3 separate regions of the Homo sapiens genome follow, and regions 2 and 3 are each linked to region 1. Evidence: fine-mapped expression QTL. A gene starts in region 1. Each other region holds a variant in brackets. All regions are shown on one strand. Distances are between the middles of the regions. Region 1 holds the start of ARHGEF4 (Rho guanine nucleotide exchange factor 4). Region 2 overlaps ARHGEF4 (Rho guanine nucleotide exchange factor 4). Region 3 overlaps ARHGEF4 (Rho guanine nucleotide exchange factor 4).

Region 1 (2,752 bases):
CCCCACAGTGCCTCCTCTGAGTATCTATCTCCCAAGCTTCTCGCCTGGCCTGGTTGCTGTGAGGGCCTGGGGAGAGGCAGAGACAGGTTGGGTGTACGGAAAATGCACACTCTGCCAGGCACCCCTGACACGCACTGCTGACCAGGCATAGCGTTCAGTGGGGCTAGGACTTGGACGAGGGTGCAGGCTTGAGCAGGGGTGCAAAAAGCCAGTCTGGGCAGATGCTCTCCCTCTGTGGGGCGCCGATCTCAGAAATGGTGGACAGAGCAGGGCTGCAGTATGGTGCACATGGGCCTTGGGGTCTTAGCTTTCGTGGGCCTCTTCCTGCATAAAATAAAATAGTTAAAATTAGAGTTTACAACTGCATTCATATAAAGATGAATATACTCCAGGCTAGATTCATTATTATTTTATTATACTCAGTTTTTTTCTTCTGATTTAAAATAGTGCGGTCCTAGGGCTGGTTAGAGTGTTTCCTGGCAGGCCCTGTCTCCTTAAACCCCTGCAAAGAAAGCAGCGAGGACTTCCCTTTGCCCCTTAGCAGAAAGCTGCGCTCCTTAATGGTTACGGGTGTGACCATTCACTTACATCCTATCTGCAGGACATACCTGGAAAGGTAAGTGGGAGGCAAGAGGGAGCTGGAGGCCAAGACTTCGGTCCCAGATATCCTAGTCCACATTTGTCCCCACCAGGTGTGTGAGTGCCGGCGCGCTGCACAGCCTCCCTGGGCCTCCGTTTCCTCAACTGGTAAACAAGAACGCTGGGCGGACTGAACTCTGAAAGTTCTGGGAGCTTGACAATCAGAACTCTCAGCAGAGAGGCCGCCCCTGCTCTCAGGAGGGCGGAGGCACCTGAGTCTCCAGTGCGGAGGACAGGCCGAAGCGCTGCGTTGGAGATGTGCAAATGCGCAAGAAGCGTGCTGCTTTCTCTCTGAGAAAACACTCCTAGGCTTCAAGGGGGCCCAAGAGCTCGACTGGGCGGGATGATCCCGGCGGCCCCTGGGCCGGGTCTGTGGACGGCTCTGCTGTGTGCCTGTGCGTGCCCAGTCCCGCGGGTGACCAAAGCCCAGGGGCGGGCAGGGCAGGAGCCTGGACCTCACGTGCCTCCAGTGGCCAGGTTTGCGGGGGCGGAGCGTCCGGGCGAGGGCGCGGGGGCGGACCCTAGGGCGGGGCGCGGGGTGGCGTCGGTGGAGCCGGCTCGGCGGCGCGGCTCGTAGTGCTGCGGCCGGGCTCCGGGCGTCCCGGCGGCCACCATGCTCAGCGTCGTGCACTTCCTCCGGAGCTTCTTCAAGGTGAGAGCCGGCGTCCGGGACTTGCGGTCGGGCTCCCGGCGCCCTGCGCGGGTGGGGAGGAGCACAGCCCGCGCTGGCTGCTGCGCCCCGGGCCGTCCCCTGGGCACCCGGTGGGTGGGGACACCCTCGTGGCTCCCCGCCGCTCCCAACTTTCCGACGTGCAGACCGGAGGCGGCGTCCTGCAAAGTGGGGCCGTCTCGAGCGCGGGGAAGGACGGGGCTCCGTTGGGGGCGGTAGGGACGGCGGCCCGGGGCGAGCCCCTGAGAGGGCAAGGGCGAGCGCCTGAGCCGGCCTCCCCGCACCTGGACCGTCCTGGGCGCGCGGGGCACTCGGAGCCGCTGCCTGGACCGGCCTGGGCGCGCAGGGCACTCGGAGCCTCTGCCGCTTGGCGCAGTACCAGCTGTTTTGGGAAGGAGGGCTGGTGCCGGCCCGGTGGGTACGGGAGAAGTGGTTGCTGTTGTTATTCCCCAGGCTGAGAGTACGCGAGGGCGCAGCAGCGGCAAGGGGCTGGAACTGGGGTCGGGGCTGTTGGGCTCCTGCTCGGGGTGCCCCCTCTCTGGCCCGATTTCCGGGCCCGCTCACCATCCGGGACCCACTCAGTTGGGACGCCTCCACCTCGCTGCCCCCACAGGAACCCCAAGATGGGCCGGGGGCTCCGGGGCACTGTCAGGGGTGGCCGGCCACAGGTTGCCAAGCCCGACCTCCCCAGGTGAGCCAGCGGGAGGGCGGTTGCGACGCTGGGTGGTGCTGAGCTCCGATGGGCTCCTACTCCGGGAGCAACTGCATGAAAGGAGAGGCGGGGAAGAGCCACCAGCTGTCAGCTGCAGGTCCAGGGGGAGGCAGACCTGTGTGGGGCTGTCGGGGCGGGAGGGCGGGAGGGCGCCCTACTTGGCTGTGCAGCCATCTTCTCCCGGAGTTGAAGACGGGAGGTTGAGGTCGGAGTTCTGTGGCCCTGAGAGCTCTAGTGAAAGGGGCAGGAAGCCAGGTGACCCAGGGCAGACCTGCAGGAGCCCTGCCCTCAGCCTATCCGCTGGCCTGGCATCAGCTCCCACCCCCAGCGATAACGAAGTGATCGCTGGCATCAAGAGTGGAGAGGGCCGGACAGCCGGGAAGGCAGCCTTTCAGGAACCTGTGCTGGTGAGTGTAGGAGATGGCTTGGAAGAGCTCAGACCCCCTTCAAATGCCGACTCTGTCATTGAGGAGGTGTACAATCTTGGGACAATCACATAACCACCTGGGTCTTTGTTTTGAAAAATGTGGGTGATGTTTCCATGCCCTCCACACCTTTCAGGGTTAGTGTGAAGGTCTTATTAGAAAATGTGAGTGTGGCCCGGCGCGGTGGCTCATGCCTGTAATCTCAGCACTTTGGGAGGCCGAGTGGGGGGGGCGGATCGCCTGAGGTCACGAGTTCGAGACCAGCCTGGCCAACATGTCAAAACCCCGTCTCTACTAAAAATACAA
Region 2 (2,752 bases), 110 kb after region 1:
GTTTCATCTTCTGCTTTGTTTTCCTGTTTTGTTTTGTTTTTTTCTCACCTGTGTTCACTGCCTTCACTGGCAGTTTGTGATGCAGTGATCATGTTTTTAATCTGCAACAATCTTTCCAATGTCCTTTTGAAGCCATTAAGAACAGAAAATTGGGATTTTTGTAAAATTTTCTTGTTATTTCCAAATTTCAGTTCATTTCCAAATTCATCTGCTCTTCTTTCGAGGTTTTCTGTTTGTTTGTTTGTTTTTTATTTACTTTATTTTATTTATTTATTTATTTTTTGAGACGGAGTCTCGCTCTGTCACCCAAGCTGGAGTGCAGTGGTGCGATCTCGGCTCACTGCAAACTCCACCTCCTGGGTTCACGCCATTCTCCTGCCTCAGCCTCCCAAGTAGCTGGGACTACAGGGGCCCGCCACCACGCCTGGCTAATTTTTTCTATTTTTTAGTAGAGACAGGGTTTCACTGTGATAGCCAGGGTGGTCTCGATCTCCTGACCTCGTGATCCGCCTGTCTTGGCCTCCCAAAGTGCTGGGATTACAGGCATGAGCCACCATGCCCGGCCTGTTTGTTTTTCGATGGGGTCTCGCTCTGTCGCCCAGGCTGCAGTGCAGTGGTGCGATCGATCTCGGCTCACTGCAGCCTCCACTTCCTGGGTTCAAGCAATTCTCCTGCCTCAGCCCCCAAGTAGCTGGGGTTACAGGTCCCCACCACCATGCCCAGCTAATTGTTGTATTTTTAGTAGAGACAGGGTTTTGCCATGTTGGCCAGGCTGGTCTCGAACTCCTGACCTCAGGTGATCTGTTTGCCTCAGTTTCCCAAAGTGCTGGAATTACAGGCGTGAGCCACCACACATGGCCTCTTTTGAGGCTTTTTATTAATAGGTGAAATTTCTTTATTTGCTCGTCTGTGAGGACAGCAGTCTTCCCCCAGCAGTGGTGTGTTGTTAAGTAGCACTGGAAGTGACGTTCTTTCAGAGATTGTTATGGGTTCCTGTTAACATCCTTCAAACACAGCTGAAGGAGGATGAGGAAGGCAAGGCTTTCTTGTGATGAATGCCATGAGTCAGCGCCTAGAGGCTTGTGGGGAGCTGTCAGTAGTCCTGGCAGGGAGCTCCTCCCCCTCACTAGAATTTCTTCTCCACGTTTGGAAGGGTGGCCAAGAATCAGCCTGATGTGGGAGCAGGCCACCTCTCCCTGGCAAATCGGTGTCCAAGATAAACCCCCACCACACCCGCCCCTCTCTCAGTGGAGCTGGCAGGGCCAGGTACATCTCTGAGAGTCCCTGATGCCTCCAGAGTTCGTGCCTGTGGCTTTGGAAGGGTTGGCTGGGTTTTACCAGGACTACCTGGTAGTATGGTTATTTCACAAGCTGTAGGTCACCTCTTTCTTCAAACCACTTTGTTGTATCTTGTGGCTAACACCCTTCATCAGTCTCTAGTTACTAGTAAAGGATGCTTTCTATTTTTTAAACAGCTTTGTTGAGCTATAGTCATATACAGTTCGGTGGCAGGATATTCACAGATACGTGCGGTCATCACCAGTCCATTTTAGAACATTGTCAGCACCTCATAAGAAGCTCTGTACCTTTAGCTATT[A/ACC]CCCCCCACCACCACCCGAAGGAACCACTTATCTACTTCCTGTCTCTGTAAATTCCCTACCCTGGATTTGCCTATGGATGGAATCATGTAGGAACTGGTTTTGTGACTGGCTTCTCTCACTTATAATAATGTTTTCAAGGTTCTTCCACATGTCACATGTACTTCAGTACTTCATTTCTTTCTTTGGCCAAATAATATTCCATTGTATGGATACACCACAGTTTGCTTATTTATTCATCCACTGATGAGCAATTGGATTACTTCTACTACCTTGCACTTCAGTGCTAGGGAGATGGCTTCTGTCCTTAAATCTCAGGAACCAACCTCTGCTAGGTTTAGACTTTTCTTTTACAGCTTCCTCACTTCTCTCAGCCTTCATACAATTGGAAAAAGTTAAGGCCTTGCTCTGGATTAGGCCTTAGCTTAAAGGAGTGTTGTGGCTGATTTGATCTTCTATCTAGACCACTAAAACTTTCTTCCTATTGCAATCAGGCTGTTTCACTTTCTTATTCATGTGCTAACTGGAGTAGCACTTTTCATTTCCTACAAGAACTGCTCCTTCACTTTCAGAACTTGGCTGTTTGGCTTGAGAGGCCTAGCTTCTGGGCCATCTTGGCTTTGACATGCCTTCCTTACTAAGCTGAATCATTTCTAGCTTTTGATTTAAAGTTAGAGATATGTGACTCTTCCTTTCACTTGAAAACTTAAAGGCCATTACTGGGTTATTAATTGGCCTAATTTCCATATTGTGTCTCATGAATAGGGAAGCCCAAGGAGAGGGAGAGAGACAGAGGAATGGATGGTCGGTGGAGCAGTTGGAACACACAACATTTATTGATTAAATTTGCCATCTTCTATGGGCACAGTTCATGGCATGTCTTCACTTCTTGTTTTCCCTGTCTCATCTTTTTATTGTTCTATTCCTTCTTTACTGTTTTCTTTTTCACTGAGTGAATATTTTCTAATGTAGTATTTTAATTTTATTAATGATTCTTTCACTGTATTTTTTGAGATTTGTTTTTAATGGTAGCTTTAGCGTTTCATGTATATATATATAACTTACCAGCATCAACTTCAGATTTATACTAGCTTAATTCCAGTAATATATAGAACTATTACTCCTTTATAGCTCTATTCCCTTCCCCCTTTTTGTGT
Region 3 (2,752 bases), 200 kb after region 1:
GTGTCCCTCTGCCAGGGTGCGACAAAGGCAATTAACACCTCCTCCCCTCCTCCCCAAGGTCTTCCAGCTGACTGGGCAGGACAAGTGTGGGGCTTGTCCCTAATGGTGCCTGGAAGCTGGCCTCTCTGTGAAGCCCTCCTCTTGCCCGACACCTGGTGACCTTCCCTGGCAGCTATGTGGGGGGCCACCTATGCCGGACCCAGTCCCACCTGCAGGGACAGGCAGCATAAAGGAAAGGGGAATGGGGGCACCAGGCTTCTGCTCAGGGCTCATTTAAGGGAACCTAGAGACAGAGGGTGACACCTCACCTGGTTAATATCAGGCAGGAACCTCCTGAGAAGGGAAGCAGTGGGAAAATGAGCCATGTTGAGTGTGTCGGGTCACCTCCTGACAGCCTGTGTCACAGACCCCAGGTCAGGGCCATGTCACCTACAGCTCACGCTCTCACTGGTGTCCCCAGACCGCCATGTCTGCTTCCTTCTTTCCCTGGAGCCTCATTCTTCAGGGCCTCAGCGGGGTGAGCCAGCTCCCCACTGTGGCTGGTGGGCTCCTACCATATGGTCGCCTGAGCCCTCCTGTCTCATCTCATCTGAGTGGCAGCAGCAGCTCATGATCTGGAGGCCACCTGCAGAAGGTCTTTGTGGCTGGGAATGAGAGCAGTGGCCCCCTGTGGAAGCCTGCTGCCCCCAGGAATAACCCAGGGCTCTGTGCCTGGGACCCCGTGGAGGCCTCTGGAGGTCTGCAGCCCCCGCGTGGCTGCCGCGCTGTGAGGGTTCCTGGGCTCACAGGCTCATGTGTCACTCTGAGGAGAGCGTCCATCAGGACTGGAGCAGGTTTTACCCCCAGGAAAGAGAAGGTTTGTCCTTCCCTGAACTTGCTTGCTCAGGACCCCTGGAGGAAAGCACCATCCCAAGCAGGCTCTGGAGCTTCAGTGCTCCAGTGGCCAGCCCCAGCCCTCACCCTGCCCATTCAGGCAGAGGCCTCTTAGCTGGAACACAGGACTGGCCCCACTCTTGGTTTCCATGTTGAGGTGAGGATTCACACAGTGCTTAGGGAGTACCCAGTGAAGTGAAAGGAGGGCTCCTGGGATGGGAGCTCAGAGGAGGGCCTGTTTGTGACATTCCCATCCTTGACCGCCCCCACAGCTGTGACAGCCAGTGCCAACACCTGGTCCTAGCAGGGAGGGTCGTGGACCTCACCTCCTGTGCAGCCCCAGCCCACTCCTCCTCTCCTGCCCTAAGGCCCTAGAACTGCTCATCATTCAGGGAGCAGAAACAGATCCCATGTTAGGAGAAAGCAGGGGTCAGCCCCATGGCGTACAAGGGCTGCCTGGGAGAGGCAGGGGAGCGTCCAGTGTCTTAGTCCACACCACTCTGGAGCAAGGCACTCTGCTGGTTATTTGAGCAGAGAGAAGCATGTGAAGAATGGTCGGCTAGGTATAATGTGGTTGACTGGGTAACACT[GC/G]ATAAGAGCAGTCCTGAAGTGCCTGTCACAGAGGTAGCAGCTGCAAAACGTTTCTGCTTCTCCTAGAACTTGGGAAATGAAGAGAAGAGGTTGGACTAACTCAAACTTAGGATCACAGGGCTTGGGACCTAGAGCTCTAAGAAGGGGCATTGCTCAGCTGGTGCTGGCATCTCTGGGGCTTGGGATGGGAGCAGGGGTGCCATGAGGTTGGTTCTGCAAGTGTTGAAAAACACACAGTAAACAAGCTCCAATCACTCCAATGGCAGGGCACTGTCTACCTGGATGAAGGGGCATTGTGGTTGGTGGCTGACCTTACAGGCAATGCTCATCCACAAGAAGCCCACAGGAGGGCACCAGCCCCCAGCCCCTCCCTCCTGCAGCCTTGCAGCCCAGCCTCTCCCTCCTGCAGCCTTGCAGCCCTCAGCCTCTCCTTCCTGCAGCCTTGCAGCGCCCAGCCCCTCCCTCCTGCAGCCTTGCAGCCCCCAGGCCCTCCCTCCTGCAGCCTTGCAGCCCAGCCTCTCCCTCCTGCAGCCTTGCAGCCCTCAGCCTCTCCCTCCTGCAGCCTTGCAGCGCCCAGCCTCTCCCTCCTGCAGCCTTGCAGCCCAGCCTCTCCCTCCTGCAGCCTTGCAGCCCTCAGCCCCTCCCTCCTGCAGCCTTGCAGTGCCCAGCCCCTCCCTCCTGCAGCCTTGCAGCCCCCAGGAATTCTGGATTGGGAATGCTAACAGGGAGCAGTTGGCAGTCCCAGTGACAGGATCAGATTCTGTGGTCAGTTCACTTCCGGCTCCATCACTGAGCCTTGATAATCTAGACATGCCCAGAACATAGCCCCTGCCCCAGGAAAGCCCTGCTCCTGTCAGAGGCAGCCTTGTCAGCTCCTCTGTAAAGAAGTCAGGATCCCCTCTTCCCAGGGCTGCTGAGGGAGTGGAGACAGAGAGCAGGGAGGCCCAGGCAGCCTCCCCCACTGACCCGCCTGCCCGTGGCTCTCTCGGCAGCTCATCAGCGATGGCAGTGTGGTCTGCGCTGAAGCACTCTGGGACCATGTCACCATGGACGACCAGGAGCTGGGCTTCAAAGCTGGGGACGTCATCGAAGTGATGGATGCCACCAACAGAGAGTGGTGGTGGGGCCGGGTCGCCGATGGCGAGGGCTGGTTTCCAGCCAGCTTCGTTCGGGTATGGTTCCAAGCCCCAGCTTCTCCCAAGTTGGGCCCATAAAAAGCTACCTGGTTCTGCAGAGAAATCCAAGCCCAAAACAGCTCTGGCATCCTAGGTGCAGAGCACTGGGTGGT

Evidence for each region.
Region 2: its variant is fine-mapped to the expression of ARHGEF4 in whole blood (INTERVAL, PIP above 0.99).
Region 3: its variant is fine-mapped to the expression of ARHGEF4 in lung (TOPMed, PIP 0.92).

What each region holds. Positions count from the first base shown.
Region 1 is chr2:130,835,702-130,838,453 of GRCh38, forward strand. It overlaps ARHGEF4 (Rho guanine nucleotide exchange factor 4), which reads left to right and starts at 1,213. Exons shown (of 14, transcript NM_001367493.1): 1 at 1,213-1,291. The coding sequence starts at 1,253. It overlaps ARHGEF4-AS1 (ARHGEF4 antisense RNA 1), which reads right to left and starts at 1,293. Exons shown (of 2, transcript NR_186036.1): 1 at 609-1,293.
Region 2 is chr2:130,949,089-130,951,840 of GRCh38, forward strand. The region is part of intron 4 of ARHGEF4 (Rho guanine nucleotide exchange factor 4); the gene reads left to right. Among named protein-coding and RNA genes, the nearest start is that of SMIM39, 85 kb to the right of the region's middle. RefSeq lists a silencer at 293-620. The variant A/ACC (reference allele first, on the strand shown) is at 1,598.
Region 3 is chr2:131,036,397-131,039,148 of GRCh38, forward strand. ARHGEF4 (Rho guanine nucleotide exchange factor 4) reads left to right here. Exons shown (of 14, transcript NM_001367493.1): 6 at 2,457-2,636. Among named protein-coding and RNA genes, the nearest start is that of SMIM39, 2.7 kb to the left of the region's middle. The variant GC/G (reference allele first, on the strand shown) is at 1,464.